Homo sapiens: one gene and its partners. The protein of the gene in region 3 interacts with the protein of the main gene of each other region in a pairwise test. Each region holds a gene or a part of one and is shown on either strand. Other genes may lie near its edges.

Region 1 (5,376 bases), on a different chromosome or scaffold from region 3:
GGCTGGCAGAAGAGCGAGCTGGGCCCTGGACTTCAGGCCCAGAGCTTAGAGGGTGCCTCTCTGCACCCTGCCTGTTGCTGCTGCGGGCTGACACAGTGGTCACATGAGGCGCCCACAGAACCAGGGCCTGCTACCTCCTGGAGCTGTGGAGCTGGGGAGGAGAGTGAGCAGGGGATGGATAGGGAGTCCCAAGGACAGAGACTGATCATGGAACGAACTGTCCCCATCATGGCAGGGCTGCGTGACCTTTGAGGACGTGACCATTTACTTCTCCCAGGAGGAGTGGGTGCTCCTCGATGAGGCTCAGAGACTCCTGTACTGCGATGTGATGCTGGAAAACTTTGCACTTATAGCCTCGCTGGGTAAGGCTGTCACCCCTACCCCGGTGTCCCGAGCTCCTCTCTGCCTGTCCCCTTTGCCCAAGAAACAGCTCTTTCCTTCCCACAGCCAGACCGCTGGCACTGCTTCCATCCCCACTTTCCTGGTATGTGTGTTGTGGCTTCTGGGGCTGAGCTATGTGCATTGTTCCCTCCTCTCCCTGAGCTGCCCCCACACCTGCTGCCTGAAGCCTTGCAGGGAAGCTCCAGGCATGAGGGGTCTTGCGGTTAGCTGTGTGACTACCTCTGACTCGGCCATTCCCTCCTGGGTGATTATCCAGATCTGACAGTTCTGTGGTTTAGATTCTGTGCCTTTCCTCTTGCTAATATTTCCTAAGCCTGACTGTGCCAGGAATTCCAATCACTGATGTGGTTACTGCTTGCCGTGACCACCCAATGTCCCTGTGTCATACGGAGCTTCCTGTCTTGTAGTCTATCATGGGGTAGTTCAACTGGGCAGGTGCTGGCCACTGACCCACTCTGTCTTTCCCTTAGGACTTATATCTTTCAGGTCCCACATCGTTTCCCAGTTGGAGATGGGGAAAGAGCCCTGGGTGCCTGACAGTGTGGATATGACATCAGCCATGGCCAGAGGGGCTTATGGCAGGCCTGGCTCTGGTAAGCAGCGATGGGAGCTAGGGGAGGATGTGACTTCACCACTGTGTTTACATCATACCAGCATCTTCTCTCCTATTCATCATCATTTGATACCAATGCCAGTAGCCAGACCACGTCTCTGCTTTTCCTTCCCCGTGCTTGACACATTATCTACTTGTCATTATTATTCTGAGTTGGGCCCCTTGGCTGTGCCCCACTTTTCTGGCCTCCGTTTCTCTCTTTCAGCTTCCTCTGCGGCACTTTCCAACACTGGCCTACACTTAATGTGTTGTGAGATACGTGCTTTTCCTTGATGTGCTTGAACACCAGCTACTCAGTTGCAGGTTTTGCTGGGTCTAGATGCTCTCACTGCATAGCCCTCACAGGTTACCAGCAGCCCAGGCCCTGCCAAAAGGCCTTTAAAGAGAAGTGAGTGGGAGACCCTGCCTCTCTGCCCAATACTGTCCCCCATCCTTGTGTCCCTGGTCCTGATAAGGCCTCCTGTATTTTGTGACCTGGCCAGGCACAGTATGGCGGAGCAGATTATTCCTTACCCTGACCTGAGCCTTCTTGTGTTGCCAACAATCCCATGGGCTTATTCTTGGGTCAGCCAAGCATAGGTGATGGGGCTCTTTCCTTCTATTAAAGTTTATACGAACTTCACCAGCATTTCTCTGCTTTCAGATTTTTGCCATGGAACAGAGGGCAAGGACTTACCTTCTGAGCATAACGTTTCTGTAGAAGGAGTGGCACAGGACAGGAGTCCCGAGGCAACTCTGTGCCCCCAGAAGACCTGCCCCTGTGACATATGTGGCCTACGTTTGAAAGACATTTTGCATTTGGCTGAACACCAGACAACACATCCCAGGCAGAAACCATTTGTGTGTGAGGCATATGTGAAAGGCTCTGAGTTCAGTGCAAACCTTCCCCGGAAACAGGTGCAGCAGAACGTACACAACCCTATCAGAACGGAGGAGGGCCAGGCTTCCCCTGTAAAGACCTGCAGAGACCACACATCAGATCAGCTTTCCACCTGCAGGGAGGGTGGGAAGGACTTTGTGGCCACAGCAGGGTTTCTGCAGTGTGAGGTCACTCCCAGCGATGGGGAGCCGCACGAGGCCACCGAAGGTGTGGTGGATTTTCACATTGCACTAAGGCATAACAAGTGCTGTGAATCTGGGGATGCCTTCAATAACAAATCCACTCTTGTTCAGCACCAGAGAATCCACAGCAGAGAAAGGCCTTATGAATGCAGCAAATGTGGAATCTTCTTCACTTACGCCGCTGACCTCACTCAACACCAGAAAGTTCACAATAGAGGAAAACCGTATGAGTGCTGTGAATGTGGAAAATTCTTCAGCCAGCACTCCAGCCTTGTTAAACATCGCAGGGTTCACACCGGTGAAAGCCCTCACGTGTGTGGTGACTGTGGGAAATTCTTCAGCCGAAGCTCCAACCTCATTCAGCATAAGAGGGTTCACACTGGTGAAAAGCCATATGAGTGCAGCGACTGTGGGAAGTTCTTCAGCCAGCGTTCCAACCTCATTCATCATAAGAGGGTTCATACGGGCAGAAGTGCCCATGAGTGCAGTGAATGTGGGAAATCTTTCAACTGCAACTCCAGCCTAATTAAACATTGGAGAGTTCACACTGGAGAAAGACCTTACAAGTGTAACGAATGTGGGAAATTCTTCAGCCACATTGCCAGCCTCATTCAACATCAGATAGTTCACACTGGCGAGCGGCCTCACGGGTGTGGTGAGTGTGGGAAAGCCTTCAGCCGAAGCTCTGACCTCATGAAACATCAGCGAGTTCACACTGGTGAGCGGCCTTATGAATGCAATGAATGTGGGAAGTTATTTAGCCAGAGCTCCAGCCTCAATAGCCATCGGAGACTTCACACTGGTGAACGGCCTTACCAGTGCAGTGAATGTGGGAAATTCTTTAACCAAAGCTCCAGCCTCAATAACCACCGGAGACTTCACACCGGCGAGCGGCCTTATGAGTGCAGCGAATGTGGGAAAACCTTCAGGCAGAGGTCCAATCTGAGGCAGCACCTGAAAGTTCACAAACCAGACAGGCCTTACGAATGCAGCGAATGTGGGAAAGCCTTCAACCAAAGGCCTACCCTCATTCGGCATCAGAAGATTCACATCAGAGAAAGGAGCATGGAGAATGTGCTCCTTCCCTGTTCACAGCACACACCAGAGATAAGCTCTGAGAACAGACCTTATCAGGGCGCTGTCAACTACAAGTTGAAACTTGTTCATCCAAGTACCCACCCTGGGGAGGTTCCCTAGGAATGCTAGCTGTGTTGGAAGCTTTCTGGAGACAAGTTACATTCTCTTACTGTAGAGTTTATCAGCGTTTTTTCACTGCTGGGGTTGTGATAGAAGCCATGTCAGCACCACACACTGCAGCTCTCCAAAGAGTGTGTCCACCACTCCACTGTGCTCAGGGAAGGCAGACCTCTCCTCTCTCTTTCCAATCCCTAAAGGGAATTAGGAGTAGTCTGAAGCCTTGGGAAGATGTCATTCCCGCCCTGTATGGCTGGTTTAGCCATGGACATGACCAGCTTTTGGCTGTGAAGACCTGAGCAGGGTTTTGCCAACAGCTTGTTCTAGAGAAGGTTTCCCTTTTTCTGGGACATTGTTGGTCTCATGTTATGCCTGTGAAGGATTTGTCCAGCCTTCATGTTACTCTACACAACAACTTATCTCCTGTGTATTGCCCTGGTTCATGTGATGATAATGGCCTTATGATAAAGCCGCCTTTAGTCTTCCATGTTCTGATCACTGTGTGGGGTGGTTCAAGAGCAGAGTTAAGATCTACCAAACTGAAGGGGTCTCCAGATTATCTTGGAGGGGACAGGAGGATGGCAGAGAAACAACTGTCAATCCAGATTTGACCTCATTTGCATTGCCACCAAGGCCTCCTAGGAAAAATTGTAGGAATTTATGGGTATAATATTGTGGTCTGAATGGCGTGAATTTTTATCCCGAGGAGGGGGCAGTTGTGACAACCTCCAGTGCATGTGGGAACAGCATGAATTGGGTCCCTTATTCCCAGGGGGTGCCCCATATTCCCCAATACTGTAAAGCAGATGCTGTTTAGCACCTGCCAAGGAGCCATATGCCCTGAAGTTCAGCATTAGGCAGGTATCTCTTAACTGTAAGACATACCAGGCCCAGCTGGGACCATAATTTGTACAGAAACACTGGATGTGATTAATAGGGAGTAGGCGAGATTATAGCAAACCAGCAGAAATGGAACTCTGCTAAATGTGCATCCGTGAATGCTCCCTTGAATGTGGCTGTGCAGGATTCAGGGTTTGCAGAAATTCTCAGGACCTCAGACCTCTGTCCTATGACTAATGTTACTGGCAGAGCAAATAATCTAAAGGTTTTGGTTTTGTGGATTACCATCTCCGTGCTGTGCATCTGAAGGCCAGTGCTGTGCTGGCAGGAAAATAGGGACTGAGAAAAAGCAGATCCTATACTATAGGGACTGTAGTATCTATGACGTAGCCAGCCATTCTTTGCTCCCAAGGCAAGAAGAAAGAGATGACAGAGTCAATATAGGGTTGCCAAATCGGATTTTCTAAAATGAGTAGGAAGTTGGATTTTTATGTGCAACAGTTTCTTTTAATGCTTTGTTGATATGTGATTGTCATGCAATAATTATTCATATTTGGTAAGTTTTGTACATATATTATGTACACTCAGGGAACCAATACCATAATCATGATAATGAACGTATCCATCACCTGCAAAGCTACCTCATGCCCCTTTACATTCCCTCCTTGCCTTCCCTAGGAAACCGTTGATTTACATTTTTTACTTTAGATTTGTTTGCCTTTTCTAGAATTAACACAATTGGAATCATAAAGTATTTATACTCTCTTTTGGTCTGGTTTCTTTCATGCAGCATAATTATCTTGAGAATCATCCATGCTGTGTGTATATATAGTTCATTCCTTTTACTACTGAGTAGTGCTATACTGGGTGAGTGCACCATAGTTTTTTATGGTTTATTTAAAAATGTTAAAAAAATCTGATGAAATATACTTAACATGAAATTTACTATCCTAACCATTTTTAGTGTATACTTCAATGGTATTAAGTAGATTCGTATTGTTATGTAACCATCACCACCATTCGTCTCCAGAACTCTTCAATCTTGCAAAACTGAAATTCTGTACCTGTCAAGCAATAACTTCCCATTTTCCCTTCCCCAGCCCCTCAAAACCACCATTCTACTTCCTGTCTGTATGAATTTGACCACTCTAGGTACCTCATATAAGTAGAATAATAAGTATTTGTCTTTTTGTAGCTAGCTTATTTCACACTTAGCATAATATTCTCAAGGTTCATCAATGTTGGAGCATATGTCAGAATTTCCT
Region 2 (7,697 bases), on a different chromosome or scaffold from region 3:
GCGTTCAGTTGATGACCTTCACTAAGCTAAATTCAGCAGTTTGTCAGCTACAAAACATTAAATAGACACAATTAAGAAGTTTGAAAAACATTAAGCAGAATTTAAACTAAAGTAACATGAACATTAACGGGAATAAAACGTAACTAGATTCATGGTACTGACATTTTAGACAAGTGCTTCAAATGGAAGGCAAAAGTGGGGGGACACAGCGGTGCAGAAATCCAAAACTCAGTAGGTACACAGTTCAGCAGCTTATCATTTCTCCACCTTGATAAATGTACACCCAATAATGACAATAACAATAATGAAAATGTACTAAGCAGTTACTAGGTGCTGCACATTTTTCTACTTCGTTCCATTTTCGTTTACAGTTCATTGGATTTTATTATCCTCCACACTGCAAATAAGAAACGGAGGCTCAGAGGCATTAGATAAATTGCTCAACTTCACAGAGCTGGTAAGCAGACTTGCTAGGATTCAAACCCAGGTCTCTGATTCCAAAGCTGCTGTTCTTTCCCCACAGCCTCCGAATGAAGAATCACATGACTTTTACCTTTTCCCATGATCAGAGGGAAACGTTTCAAAGTTTCAAAGATTCGTTTTGTGCTTTCTGCACCCTAAGAGAGCAAGCTGAAAACATCCACCTTGAATGGTAGCATTACATATCACTTATCTATGACACAGAAAGCTGATAAAAACAGATTCTCCTTAAAAAAAAAAAAAGGCAAATTACAAAACAAAACAAAAAGTTGTTTACCAACAAAAATCAGGAAGTATTTGAGTACCTATTATAGAAGTCCAGCCCCAGTATTAGATACTATAAGGTCTCCGAGAGGAGTATTAAGACACAATGCCCTTAAAAAAACTCCCACTCCAGTTGGGACAAGAACAAGTTCAACAGCCAAGGAACAAGTGCTGAATCCGAGTGCCACAAAGCCATGGGGGCAGGGAAGTCAGGGAACACCCTCTGGAGGAAGTATATCTGCAGCAGGGGCTTGAAGGAAGTGAAATGGAGAATTTGCACAGAAAAGAAAAAGGAGGCCAGTGCTTCAGAAGGGGGAACAACAGAAGCAAAACCCAAGAAGCCGTAACTAACTCAGTTCTGCAGGGGACAGACTTGGAGAAGCAGAGAATAAGGTTCAGGTAGGTGGGGTGGGGCCAAACCACGGAGAGTCTTGAAAAGACAGGGTGGGCGGTGGCTGGACATACCGTGGCAGGCAAGAGGCCACTACTCAGCTTTGAACAGTGGTATAACTGCCGTGGCCTCTTAACTGATCTCCTGGCCTCTAGCTTCTTCACCAATGCCTTCAGTAGTTTCAACTTTGACCTAGTGTTTGAGTTGAGGAACTAGCCGCGGCCCACCTCTCCTCCTACTTCCCTCCTATATGAACCCTTCTCTGCCAGGAGACTGGTCTATTCACTAACTCCATAGGATCACTGGGCCTGATTCCTCTTTTCCTATCTGAATGCTACTCATCCTTTAACACCCGGCTCAAATCCCGCCCCTCACTAAACCCTCCCTAACCACTCGGCCTACAGTGACCTCCATCTCTCCTTCTTAATTCTACAGCACACAGCCTTGTCTCATCAAAATTACCTTTTCATAAGTAATGTCTCAGCACCCTGTGTAAAGCTGCCTGGAGACTGTAAGTGTGCCTTCTACTACTTTCCCACCACATGGAACAGCATCTTGCCATTTAATAAGCAAGCAAGCACTCAACTATTTTTTGACTTCCTATAGTAAGTTTGGCTTTAGCATAAAGGAAGGATGGGGGAGGGGGGAACCTCTGGAGTCAGCGACCAGCTTAGAAGCTGTTGCAATAATCCAGATGTGAAGCAAAGAGGGCCTGGACTAGGGAACAAAGAGAAAATGGGCAAATATAAACAACAAAAAATTCTGCATGCAAAAACTCGGCGGAATGTGATTAACTACTACTAGGGACAAAAGCAAGGGATGAATGAGGATTAAGGTGAGGTTTAGAAAACGCTTCTTGAAATCATTTTAAAGCCTGTCTGAAACAAAATGCAGTAAGTGGCTTAAAAAGTCCACACTGACAAAGTCTTCAGCGAAACTGCCCAGTATCTTGAATCAGGGACAGCCCTTCCAATTTGAGACATACACGGAATGGCAGAGCCAGAAGGGTTCTTAGAGAGTTAAATGAAACCCTCAATGATCACATGGGGAAACTGAGTCCTAGCATGGAAGGGGCTTGCGGAAGGCCTCAAGACAGAGACTCCCAGACGAGTGCCGCCCTGAAAGCACAGCCACTTGGCCTAGAAGGGCACTGTTTACAACCCCGGTCAGCCCCAGCCCAGCCCTCCGCAATGGCAGGACCAACTGAGCGCGAGTGGCCACGGAGACGTCTGGGGCCAAGCGCAACCCGTCGCCGCCGCCTGTTTACCTGGAGGAAGGCGGTGGCGTGAGGCAGCGGCTCCGTGGCAGCCACCCGAAGGGCCGACCCCTGGCCCGGCCGGCTCTCCAGGGAACTCAACCATCTGCCCTCCCTCCCCGTACAAAAGGGAGCGCCCCCAGGGCTAGGGGCCCGGAAGCTGGGGATCCCGAGACGCCCCGGGCGGAGGCTGGGAGCCCAGGGCAGCTGCCCGAGCGCGACCCTCAGCCGGGCCAGCGGCGCCGGGACTCCAGGACCGAGCACAGCTGGCCCCTCGGGGACGCGCGCCTGACCCCAGCAGGTGCCCGGGGCCTCCGGACCCCGCCCGGCCTCGGCTCCCGCCCGCGCCGGCCGCCTGCCCGCGGGACTGACCAGGCGCGGAGGCTCCCGCCCCGCCGCGCCCAGAGGGAGCCGGACAGCGGCCCGGGGACTGCCCCCCGCCCCGCCTGCCCCGCCTGCCCCGCCCGCGCCTAGCCCGCTGCTCGCCGCCCCCGGCCAGCGTGCCTCACCTGTCCAGAGCGCCGCGCTCACATCGCCCGCCCGCGGCGCCCCCTCCGCCGCCGCCGGCGCCAGGCCAGTCCCCGCCGCTCCGGCTGCCGCCCCAGCCCGCGCCCCCCGCCCCCGGAAGCGCTTCCCGGCCCCGCCCCCTGGACGCCCGCGCTTCCGGGCAGGCGCCAACCCGGGTGGTGGCGTTGCGCGGCGGACCTCTAGCCAGGGCCCGGGGTCCTGAGTCCCGCCCGGTTGTCGTCCCAGAGCCTCGCCGCGGGCTAGCGGCAGCCTTGGTCTGGACCCCGGAGTCCCGACTCCGGGAAGCGGCGTCGGCTCTGCCTTCAGCCCGCGCTCTCCTCGGCGCCCCCTGCTGGCGGGAGAAGGGCGGTGCAGTGGGGCGCGTTTCAGGGGCTCCCGGAATCGAACGGGTGGGAGAGAGCCCAGGACCCTCGACCCCCCCAGCACTGGGGGGCCTGCCCCCAGCCCAGCCCTCCCTTCCAAGACCCTCCCTCCTGCATCTCTTCAGGCGCATGCCACGCACCCGAGCTGCTCCTGGCAGGGCAGCTGAAGGCAGCAAGGTGCAGTGGTTAGCAGCAGGGCTCTGGGGACCTGTCATAGGGGGTCTCTTGACTTACCACCTTGGGCAGGTTTTCTCTCTCTCAAAACGGAGGTGGCTCCCGCCTGTAATCCCAGCACTTTGGGAGGGCGAGGCGGGAGGATCACTTGATCCTAGGAGTTTGAGACCAGCCTGGGCAACATAGGGAGGCCCCATTTAAATTTTTAAAACTTAGCCAGGCTTGGTGGCACATGCCTGTAGTTCCAGCTATTGGGGAGGCTGAGGTGGGAGGGTCGCTTGAGTCCGGGAGGTCGAGGCTGCGATGAGCCATGATCGTGTCACTGTACTTCAGCAGTGGTGAAAGAGCAAGACCCTGTCTCAAAAACAAAACGGAGGTGAAAATTCCCAACTCACTGTTATAAAACCCATGTCACAGAGCATGCCTCAAAAAATGTGCATTTCCAGACCCTTGGGGACACCCCAGTCTTCAAACCGTTGGGTGGGAGTGGGAGCCTCACCCAGCGTTTTCCTCCCAGCATTAGACCAATGTAACACTCTTTGAAGAGCTTCCCTTTGCATTTTGGTGGAGTCAGTAGTTGTGGCAGAGGTTTATTTTCCTTTTTCTGGCTTTGTAATAAAAATAAACTAGGAGGCAAAGATACCAGCTCCTCTTCAGGATAGAAAGCTGCTGAGACTTCCTGATGTTACTTCATCCTTTGCAAGCAGGAACTGTCTCTCCAGGATCTGTCCAGTGGTCATCCTCCAATAGCAACAGCTACCCTTTGTCAAACACTCCATGCAGGGCACTGTGTAGACACTTGACAGCCATGACCTCATTTAACACAACCTAAGGAGGTGGCGATCTATTCCCATTTTAATCCAAGAGGGAACTGAGGCTCAGAGAGGTTGAGTGACTTATCCAAAGTCACACAGCTAGTAAATGGCAGACTTGGGATGAACTCCCTTGTCTCTCTGACTTCTTATAGCAACAGAACATCCAAGCATAGGATTTTAGGCAACCTGCCTATAACTGCAGGCACCTGGGCAGACAGGTAGTCTCGCTCTTGAATTGCTATTGCACTTGAGTTGTTTTCTTGAGATCTGTCCCCAAGGGTGAGATACGTGTGCACCCAGGGCACAGGAATACATCATCTTGTCAGGTTTCCTCCGGACTGCTGAGCTGATTCTTATGCCCAGAGGTTTTCCTACAGATCAGCCTTGGGCCTCATCATTTTAACTGATTTTTGCTAAATTCGTTGATAAGAGTTAGGGTCTTCTTGGCTGTGACACAATATTTGCATATCATTAAGTACTATAAAGACTAAAATAGTTCCTGAGTTTTTGACCCTCCTCTGCCAAGTGTCTCAAAGTTGTTGGCCCTCTGTCTGTCCATTGGATGCTGGGTATTTCCCTCATAGTTTATATTTACTCTCCCACCTAACTGGGTCACCAAACTCATCATTTATATATTTTTCCAGCCCCTTGCTTTTTTCGTTCTTGTTGTTTAGCTGATTGTCATGGTCTCTACTAATTTTAGTTAAAAAACTGTCACTCCTCCACAGTTGAGGTGCATATGTGTTTCTGTTTTCCCATAATCTTTGTGGCAGTTTTAAATGATTTAACTCGTTAGCTCCCTTGAAATCAAGAAGTCTAGGGAGTGATGTACAAGTCTCATTTTAATTTATTCCACACTTACCCATTTTCCTCAGCAGCATTTATGAAATGATCCAATTCACATTTTGTTGAAGTTTGGGGTTGCCCTTCAATCCACAGTTAAGAAGGAGTTTTCTGGCCAGGTGGGGTGGCTCATGCCTGTAATCCCAAACACTTTGGGAGGTTGAGACAGGAGGATCACTTGAGTCCAGGAGTGTGAGACCAGCCTGGGCAATATAGTGAAACCTCATCTCTACAAAAAAGAAAAAAAAAAAAGCTGAGTGTGGTGCCACGTGGCTGTGGTCTCGGCTACTTGGGAGGCTGAGGTGGAGGATCGCGTGAGCCCTGGAGGTCAAGGCTGCAGTGAGCCATGATCACCACACTGCACTCCCGCCTGGGCATCAGTGTAAGACCCTCTCTTAAAAAAAAAAAAAAAGGTGTGGGGCTTCCCATCGTGGGGGTCAGCCTATGTGAGGGTGATGGCTGATAGCTTACCAATACTTGTGTTCTGCCTTTTCTTCTTCCACAGCACATGGCTAAAACACATCTCCAGCCTCCTCGCCATGTCATGTGTTAATTGAGGTAGCCTGTGAAGTGCTTGGCATGTGTGAGTCTGCCGTAAAAGTTAATTCCCTTCCCATTCTTTCCTCTTCTCCCCCTCCTTGGACAGATACGGCCTGAATCTCCGCTTCTCATTGATTCCAGATTCCTGAGCACTTGGAGAGCCAAGATAGCCAGGTTATAACTGGTCCCAGCTTCTCCTTCTGGCCTCCACAAGGGACCCTTTCTGCCAGAAGTCCAGCTGCAGGACTTGGCTCTGGTCCACCTGGCAATCCTCAGAGTTTGGCAAAACCTGTTGACTGTTGGCACCTGTTAGTCTTTATACACACACATAACTCATGTGTCTCCCTTAAACAAAATATATGAATTATTTGCGGTTTCCTCATTCTTCCTCCTCTAATCAGGACCCACTAGTGTGTCCCTTCCACATGCCTCACTACCTGAACAGTACCGTCGAAGGGGGAGCCTGTCTCTCCAAACAGTCCCAAGATGTCCACTGACTTCCAGATCATTCCAGTAGGTCAGGGTTCCTTCTACCTGGCTGCCTCTGCAGAGGAGGGTGAACATTCCTCATGGGTCAGGGAGAGCACTTCCTTGGAGAACCCTCAGACACTCACCACCTTTACAATGGGGACCAGGTAGTTGGTTTACCCCTCGGAGCTTCTCTTCTTCACCTGTTAGATGATGGTGAGGCTGAGGGGTGTGATCTGAAGAGCTTCTTTTCCGTGATCAAGACCGGGCAGTAGAGAATCCTGTGGCTAAGCAATAAGGCAGATCCAGGTCTAAACCCCAGCTCAGCCACACAAGACCTCTGTGACCTGAGATGGGGCAAGACATTTGACCCTACTGAGCCTTGGCCTCCTTGTCTGTGTAGCAACGGGGATGGTACCTACCTCAGTGGGCAAATAAGATAATAATTTAATGTTTTCAGAATGGCATACTCAATAAATATTTTTGATCAGCAAGAAAGCAAGGGAAGGCCGGGTGCAGTGGCTCACGCCTGTAATCCCAGCACTTTGGGAGGCTGAGGTGGGAGGATTGCTTGAGCACAGGAGCTCAAGACCAGCCTGGGCAACATGGCAAGACCCCTTCTCTACAAAAATTAGTCAGGCATGGTGGTGTGCACCTACAGGCTTAGCTACTCTGGGATGCTGAGATGGGAGGTGGGAAGATCACTTGAGCCTGGGAGATTGAGGCTACAGTAAGCTCTGATGGCACCGCCGCATTCCAGCTTGGGCAACAGAGTAAGACCCTGTCTCAAAAAAAAAAAAAAAGAAAGGAAGAAAGGAAAGGAAAAAGGAAAGGAGGAAGGGAAGGAAGGAAAGGGAGGAAAGAAAGGGAGAAAGGATGGTCTCAAGAGCCGCCACCCATTTCCATGAGGCCACTCCTCACTTCCTGCAGAGATGACTTGCTCTCTACTCTCCGCCTGCCTCCCCTGTTCAGCTTCCATGCAGGTCCTGCCTCTCTCTGACCTGAGCCCTGCTGACACCCGCTGGGCCCAGGTGCTGCCTCTGGAGTTCTTCCCCTCTGTAATTTTCTTCTTGGTCTGCGCCCTCCTGGTTTCCTGCTGGTTCTCCAGCACTCTTAACTGACTCTCCTGGCACTCTGCACTTCTTTGTAGTAATCACAATGGCAATTAATTACCTGTATAATTATGTGTTTAATAGCTGTGTCTCCTACCACTAGCCTGTAAACTCCATGAGGATGAGAACTTGTCTGACTTCTTCCCTGCTATTTCTTCAGTGCTTGATACTTAATAAATATTTTTTGGATTAACAGAAAATGAGAGGCTACCTGTTTTTCTTCTAAGTCTATATTCCCTGAGGGCAAGGACTGCTTTATTGTTCCATTTTCCCTGTACCTTACAGAGAACCTGGTGCTGAATGGGCAACAACGTTTGCTGAATGAATGAATGAAGAGACTGAAGCCCCATTTCTCTTCCCCTTTTACCTGTATCATGCCTTAAGACTGGTTCTCCCCTCACTGTAAGTGCTTTCTTGGTCCTAACCAGCCCCTACCTGGAAGCTTCCCTTGACCCATAAGGATAA
Region 3 (7,120 bases):
GTACTGTTTTGTTCTCCAAAAAAAAAATTGAGACTTGGAAAACAAAAAAGGAGGAGAAACAAGTACAAAGAGGGGGTACTAGAGAGAGGGAAACAAATTAAGTCTGGAACAAAGAAAGACACGGAGGTATAACTAAACTGCAAAAACAAAGGAGAGGTAGGAACTAGAGGGCAGTTCCCCGCTAGACAGTGTGTTCCCAGAGAAAGAGGACTCTTCATCATACCCAGCTCTGGAGGTGACAGTGAAGTCCTGCAAGACAGTTCCACAGACTGGCACTAGATGGAGCCATCAACTCAACATAGCATGGTTGCTGGAGAAGGGTATGGTGGGGGAGAGGTGGGACTGAAGGGCGTTGACTCTACAGCCAGGTATTTACCTGCCAACAACTCTATCTAAAATAAGTATAGTTTAATTAATCAACCAACTCTCCTAATGTCCAGATGTCACCACCATGCTGACACCACTATGCTTGTGGTATGTCAAATTGGGACACACCAATTTTGAAATAAATTTATCAATTCAATTTGTATCAATGCAACTGGGGTGGGGAGGTAAGTGAAGTTGGATCCGCTGCTTTTTTTTTCTTCTAAAATTCAACATGCAAAGATAATATAGAATTTCAGGTTCATTGCTACTGAATAACAAAAATCCCTAACCACAAACCAAATGGCTTTCCCTGGAAGCTTTGTTTAAATGTTAAATAACATACCATCTTGCTATAGAGGTTTATGTGATCAACTCCAATGTACGGCAAAAGGCGGGAAATGCTCACTGACAAATGTATTATTAAAAATAATCTTCTCTTTGTATTTTAATACTACTTTGATTTAAATACTGTAATCCATTTGCCTATATTCTCTGCCTAGGGTTGTGTTTATTTATCACGAGCCCTCTCTCCATTCAGAAATGGTCTCCTATCACCAGGTTACCAGTGTGCGAAATTCTATTGTTTTTATCTTTAGGGTTTTACTTCTTTGGCTTTGTCTCCTATTAACATGCTGATGCTTCAGAAAAGTAACACATTAAGTATGCTCAGTTACTTATATATTAGTAAAACTGTGTTCATAAAATCTTTCTCTGAGATTGGTTTTGGAAGGGAAGGACAAGGACTAGTTGAGGGGACTGGGTGGCCAAAAGGTAAGAGAGCATGAAACAAAAAAGTGAGCACAGAAGGAGGATGGGGGAACTGGCTGCAAACCGTGCCTAGCTTCTTTACATCTGGGACACGGACCATCATCCCTGGCACTTATCTTCCCAAGAAAATGTATGAAAAGGAAGGGTTAACTCTGTCTACATTTTCCTCTTGCTGAATGGGTAATAATATCTTTCACAGTTAATTTCATTTTTTTTTCAGTTTGACTCTTCAGGGCTTATTCATTTGCATAATATGGAATCTTGAACCCACATAGATATTCTACAAATCAATGCAAGTAATTCTCACACTAAATCAGCAGCTTTAATTTAAGCTCAACATTGTTTGCATAGAAATCTTTATGCACTCATCTGCTTGATTTTTTAAATCACTTAAAACCTCCAACACTGACACACTAAGCATCTCCCATTTAGCTTTCTCCAAAATTTGAACTAAATGCTGAAAAATAAGCACAGTACTATACATTCATACACTTGATCATTTCCCAAATTGAGCTTCAAATGTGTGCTTAATGTTTCAAGTGGCTCCTGAGAATGATGCTTCTTGACTAAAGATGACAACTTCGGTGTCTGGCCCAGGCAGAGCTGAGTCAGCATTCTAAACAGTGACCCTGCAAACCTGAGGTAATTGGGGGTTACTGCCATACCAACTGCCTGAGTCCTTTAAAACCATTCAAATCTCCAGCTGAGAGTTGCAACATGCTAATCTGGCAAGATAATCTCTTCCTGAAATTGACCAGAATGAGAACAAAGGTTACCTCCTTTTATCTGTTACTGGTAGCTAATATTTCTAATTAGGATTTCTGATGGAATTAGTTCTGAATGAACATCTTCCTCCTTGGTAGAATACTCTACCTCTTACAGGTATAGTTTTTTACCTTTTCCTACCCACCAAAAAAACAAAAAACAAAAAACAAAACGCAAAAAACAAATTCCCTCCACCTAACAAGAGGGTAGGAGTGTGAGTTACAAGTAAACCCTGGAGACAGAGCCATGGTATTTCAGTTATATGCCTAGTACTTCTTTTGCCTTTATATGCATCACTTTTACTTTCCGATCCCTAAATGGACACTAAAACCTAAGGAATGCAATTATTAGAAAGCAGGCCATGTGAAAGACAGGAGATATACTCACTCAGATTTACTGAGAAATTATTTTTTAACTTTAAGATAGATGTCAACAAAACATCCAATATTTTAGAGTGAGATGACCTTTATTTCTACTTCTGGGAACTGCTAAAGAGAGTTCCAACTTCAAATGAAGAAGAAAAGGAAAAGGGAGAGCCATAACATGGTAAGAGAACAGGCCCAAGCATCAGACAGCTAGTGTCCAACTCCAGTTCTACCATTCATTAGCTGAGCGACACCTATGCTGCGGCTTCTAGTGATCACACCTAGCCCTGGGTTGTTCTGAGGATTATGTGAGTTAATATGAGCAGCACACAGAGGAAGCTCTCAATACAAGTTAACTATCATCAAAGAAAAAGAAAATAGAGGGGTGTTAGCATGAAGTATAATCAATTTATTTTAAATAGATGCTGTCAAAATTCCTTAATTTTGCATCTAAGAATGGTCTAAATAAGACGTGTCCAATCTTTTGGCTTCCCTGGGACACACTGGAAGAAGGAGAACTGTCTTGGGCCACACATAAAATACACTCAACACTAATGATACATGATGAGCTGAAACAAGAAAAATAGCAAAAAACAAAAAACAAACAAACAAAAACAAAAACAAAAAACCTTTGTGTTGGTCCGCATTCAACACGCAAGAGGCCTGCTGGCCATGGGTTGGACAAGCTTGGAATAATCTTCGGGCCACAGAGGATGGAGACCCTCTGCTCTGGAGTAGCCAGGGACTTCAGACAGACTATTTAGACTCACTTTTTCACCAAAGGCCCTACACACATCAGCTGACTGGGAGAGAATATCTTTGTAGCTTCTGATCATTCAAATATTGTCAAAACCAACCTAAATATGTTCAAAATAAGAATGTTAACTTGTATTTTTTCCAAGTATGGAAATGAACAGTACTCTTGGCAGTTAACTTCTGTTTTTATCAGGTTCTAAAGACCCAGGTAAATAAATCAATTCTGGACTCTGTATACAGGAACTATTATTTGCCAAAATGGCCCCAGAGGTTCCAGCATGGCTTAGGCAATACTCCAAAGGGCCAAAGATAGTAGTGAATTAATAGGATTAGGAAGCTGGAGAAAAAGTGAATCTCAAGTTTCAGACTGTCCCTGATGGAAGGTCACTCCACAATTCCTCAGGGAGGGCTTCCCCAACCTCCCGACCAGGTTAAATCTGCCCATTAGACACTCTGGTGTATGAAATACTTTCCTTCACGAGCAGTGGGTTATCTGTTACTAACTGATCAGTGCCATTCTTCCTACCAGATGACGTGCTTCATGAGACCAGGGGCCAGGACTGGGTTTGCTCCCCATTAGCACTGTGGTCACTTAACACTATGCCTGCCATGTAAGAGATACTCAGTATATATTTGTTTAATGAATGAATGAGGCATCTGCCTCTAAGCAACAGTATTTCTGGACACTTGGCCCATTTTGCACTATCCACGAGCTTCTGTTGCTTAGAAGAATACAGGATAGGAAAAAAAGAAAAATTGCCAAAAATCTATGGATACTGAAATACTAAGGAAAGATGCTGAGCATGTACATTCACTTTGTTTCCTACTTGTGGAATGGAAATCATCACATTGGGATCTCCCAACTTTAAAATCCGAAGTGAAGGTCTAAGCTGTCTTTGGGTTAGACTCCTGGAAAGTCTTGAGGAAATTCCTGAAGTATCTGCAGAAAGTGACAGGGGAGGGAGAATAGAAGATGGCCCAAGACTAGAGTGATGGAAGACTTGGAAACTCGAAAAGCTTTCTTCTAACTAACTGGGACTTTGTCTACATGCCAGCTACAGGCTCAGGCACACATGAAGAGAATAATGAGATGAATGGGAGGACTGGAAAGTGGAGGATTTAAATGCTTAGGAAAGGAGCCAATGAAAGCTGACACAAGGACAGGAGGGACCTAGCAACCAAGCGCCGGCTCTCATCACATCAGCAGCAGCATGTCCTACAGCCTTCAGGAAAAGAACAAAAAGGTCAGGGAGGAAAATGACACATCTCAGAACCAAAGGGCAATTCATTATGAGGCTAAGGAACAAAGGAGAAGTCAACCAGGGAATATGCTGAAGAAACGGTGATTATGAAGTCACTGGGGAAGACTGAGAGGCATTTTGGCTGTAGTTCCAATGACTAGAATGAAGGATGATGTGAAATGCTTTTGGATTGGGAAGATTTATTATTTTGGAAAAAAAATAGCTCAAGGAAAAACAAATGGCAAAATTCCTGCCTGAATTTTGAAGTAGTGTCACTAGCAGGATGAGGTTCAATTTATACATTCTTTAGAAATGAAATGGCCCTTGGAAAAGACATAGTGGTAAGATTCGCAGGACATTTCCAGCCTTACGGAAGCTGAGTAGCATGCTGATAGTAAAATTAAGTTTCAGTTTTAGATAGACTGACATTTGAAATTAACAAAAAAAAAAGTAAAGGGAAAAAATTAAAAGACCCTGAACTGACAAAAAAAAAGAAAAAAAAAAGCAACTACTGTCTTTTTTTTTTAAATTAAATGTCATCACAAACAAAAAAAAAAAGGTGAAAGTTGAGTTGTATTTTGGGCAATCTTACTGAGTTTACAAAATGTTTAGTTCATAGCAGGTTTCAGTTTGGACATGAACAGTTTGTAAATATTTACATAAAATTTAAAGATAGGAGGACAGCAGAGGTCATATATTGCTATTAACAATACAGAAGCGATTTTCCGTCATTCCCAAGGCCTTGGTGCTGCGTTCCCATATGTGGCCCCAGCTCTGCCAAAAGCTTGTCTTCTTTTCCAAAGAAATTCCAATTTTTGCAACCAGCATTGACTTCTGAACTGTGAGTACCTCTGACAGGGTCATATGTCGCTGAAACTTCTTCAACATCCAGACAGGGAAAGGAGAAAAACAGGGAGGCAGATTTACAGCGTCTGCTATCTGAATTGCAGATTTTGACAAATATGTTACATTTTATATTGTTCTCTGTTCTATGTGAGGGCAGGGACCATGTTCTCTGTATGTCACAGTCCTACACCATGCCCAGTCATTGATTCAGGACTGGACTGTGTAATGGAATGGGGAAATAACCTTCAGACATTCAAGAAAACATGCACTATATTCAGATTAAGTTCATTCCAACATGAGATTAGTTCTTCCAACTCTGCAGAATGGGCAGGCACGACACCTACTTCAAAGGGTTGCTTTGAGGAATCAATGAAGTACATTCAGGCAAGGTAGTCAGCACTGGGTCTGGCACATGGTGCGGATTCAGTAAATCAAAACTATTATTTTGGTGAGTGTTCTCAAATGTCAAACTCCCATGGAGGTCCTCAGGCATTACCCAGCCAAGTTACCCCATCTGGTCAGTAACAACTAAATAGAGGGCAGGTGGTTCAAAAGTAATGGATTATTCACCTGCAAGGAATCACACTGTACTCATGGTATTAAATTATTCGGCCTTTCATGTCGAATTCTCTGTTAAAAAGGAAGCTGATCAATCCCTGAGTGGGACTCAATGTTGATTTGAAGTTTTGTTTTTTTGGCATCTTTCTATTTTCCAGGTAGTTGTAACCATTCATTGGGTGCATACTCACAAATCATCCACTATATGCCAGGCCTTTAGAAAACAGAGACACACAAAGATATTAAACAAAAAAAGATGTTTCAGTCTGTTCAGTAGTGGGAGACAAGCAGCCCCCAGGCCGACACTAGCTCTTACATATGCTTTCATCCAAAAATTTTTTAAAGATTTGAGCCAATATTTAAAAATCAGGAAATTCCACATAAATATCCAATATTCAGCTTCCCCTGGAAAAATCAAATGATGTGGCAACACAAAGCCAGTAGTCCTACCAACTGTTCCCTAGCAAGAGTCTACAATGAGTTGAGTAGGGGCGGCCTGCCACTCCACACTATGCCCTGCTCCTCACCAGAACCAGGTAAGTACATAATTTGCAGGGCTCAGTGAAAAATGAAAACGAGGGGCCCTTTGTTCAAAAATTATTAAGAATTTCCGAAGAAAACAGCAGAACCTTATACCAAATATGAGGTCCTTCTGAGCAGGGAAGAGGAAGGGGGCCTATGTAACTGCACAGGTCTTATGCCCATGAAGCTAGTACTGGCTCTCACCCCCTGGACACACAGGAAGATATTTATTTATCTAAGTATTCTCTCATTCATTAACAATCAAGCCTGCATTTACAATAAGCTAGATGTCACACCCCTGAAATCTGAGGTTCAAAAACTAGAGTAGAGGGGCCAGGCACAGCAGAGATAGAGAGCCACTAGGGTCTCTTTCCTTTTTGTTAAGACTGGATCCACACCAGAGACACTGAAAGTTAATCCAAGTAAAATTAAACTGCTCTCAACAATACAGATTGGCTTGAGCCCTTTTGTTGGCATCACAGGAGCCTCGATTAGGAATTCTGAGAAACAGCTCACAAGCGCTAATGAATAACTAAGTCCTGTCGGCTGTGCAGACAGTGGGCCCAGAAGTGAAGGGCTGGCCTAGGAGAGATCTGAACATGAACCTGACCATCTGGCCCTCTGTGACTCACTTTGATCACAAAATGAATTGCAACAAATTGAAGAGCACATGGCTAGAGTTAATTGTCTCATCTGTAATCTGAATCTACTTTTAAGCAGTTATTATTACCCTCTATCAGGTGGAAACATTTCCTACCATCACTGCAAAGTGCATTTTCCTGATGAACTATAATGGATCATTAAATTCCATATCTGAATAACAATACTGTGCACTTATTCAGTGCCTTTCATCCAGGGATTTCAAGGCAGTTTGCAAATAATTAAGCCCCTTACACAGCAGCCAGAGGTGAGCTACTGGAAAAGAATTGCCTG

The links. The genes of interacting proteins can lie anywhere in the genome.
Region 1: the proteins of BACH2 (region 3) and ZNF792 interact in binary tests that used the Homo sapiens proteins (3 or more experiments, as listed by UniProt).
Region 2: the proteins of BACH2 (region 3) and ZBTB34 interact in binary tests that used the Homo sapiens proteins (3 or more experiments, as listed by UniProt).

The regions. Positions count from the first base shown.
Region 1 is NC_000019.10:34,955,854-34,961,229, reverse strand, and holds the end of ZNF792 (zinc finger protein 792), read left to right. Parts: intron 1-235; coding exon 236-362; intron 363-872; coding exon 873-995; intron 996-1,658; coding exon 1,659-3,274; 3' UTR 3,275-4,876; downstream 4,877-5,376. UniProt on the Homo sapiens protein: May be involved in transcriptional regulation.
Region 2 is NC_000009.12:126,855,942-126,863,638, reverse strand, and holds the start of ZBTB34 (zinc finger and BTB domain-containing protein 34), read right to left. Parts: upstream 3,001-7,697; 5' UTR 2,900-3,000; intron 2,461-2,899; exon of another isoform or gene 2,403-2,460; intron 48-2,402; exon of another isoform or gene 1-47. UniProt on the Homo sapiens protein: May be a transcriptional repressor.
Region 3 is NC_000006.12:90,286,806-90,293,925, forward strand, and holds part of BACH2 (transcription regulator protein BACH2), read right to left. Parts: exon of another isoform or gene 5,678-7,120; intron 5,141-5,677; exon of another isoform or gene 4,445-5,140; intron 1-4,444. UniProt on the Homo sapiens protein: Transcriptional regulator that acts as a repressor or activator. Binds to Maf recognition elements (MARE). Plays an important role in coordinating transcription activation and repression by MAFK.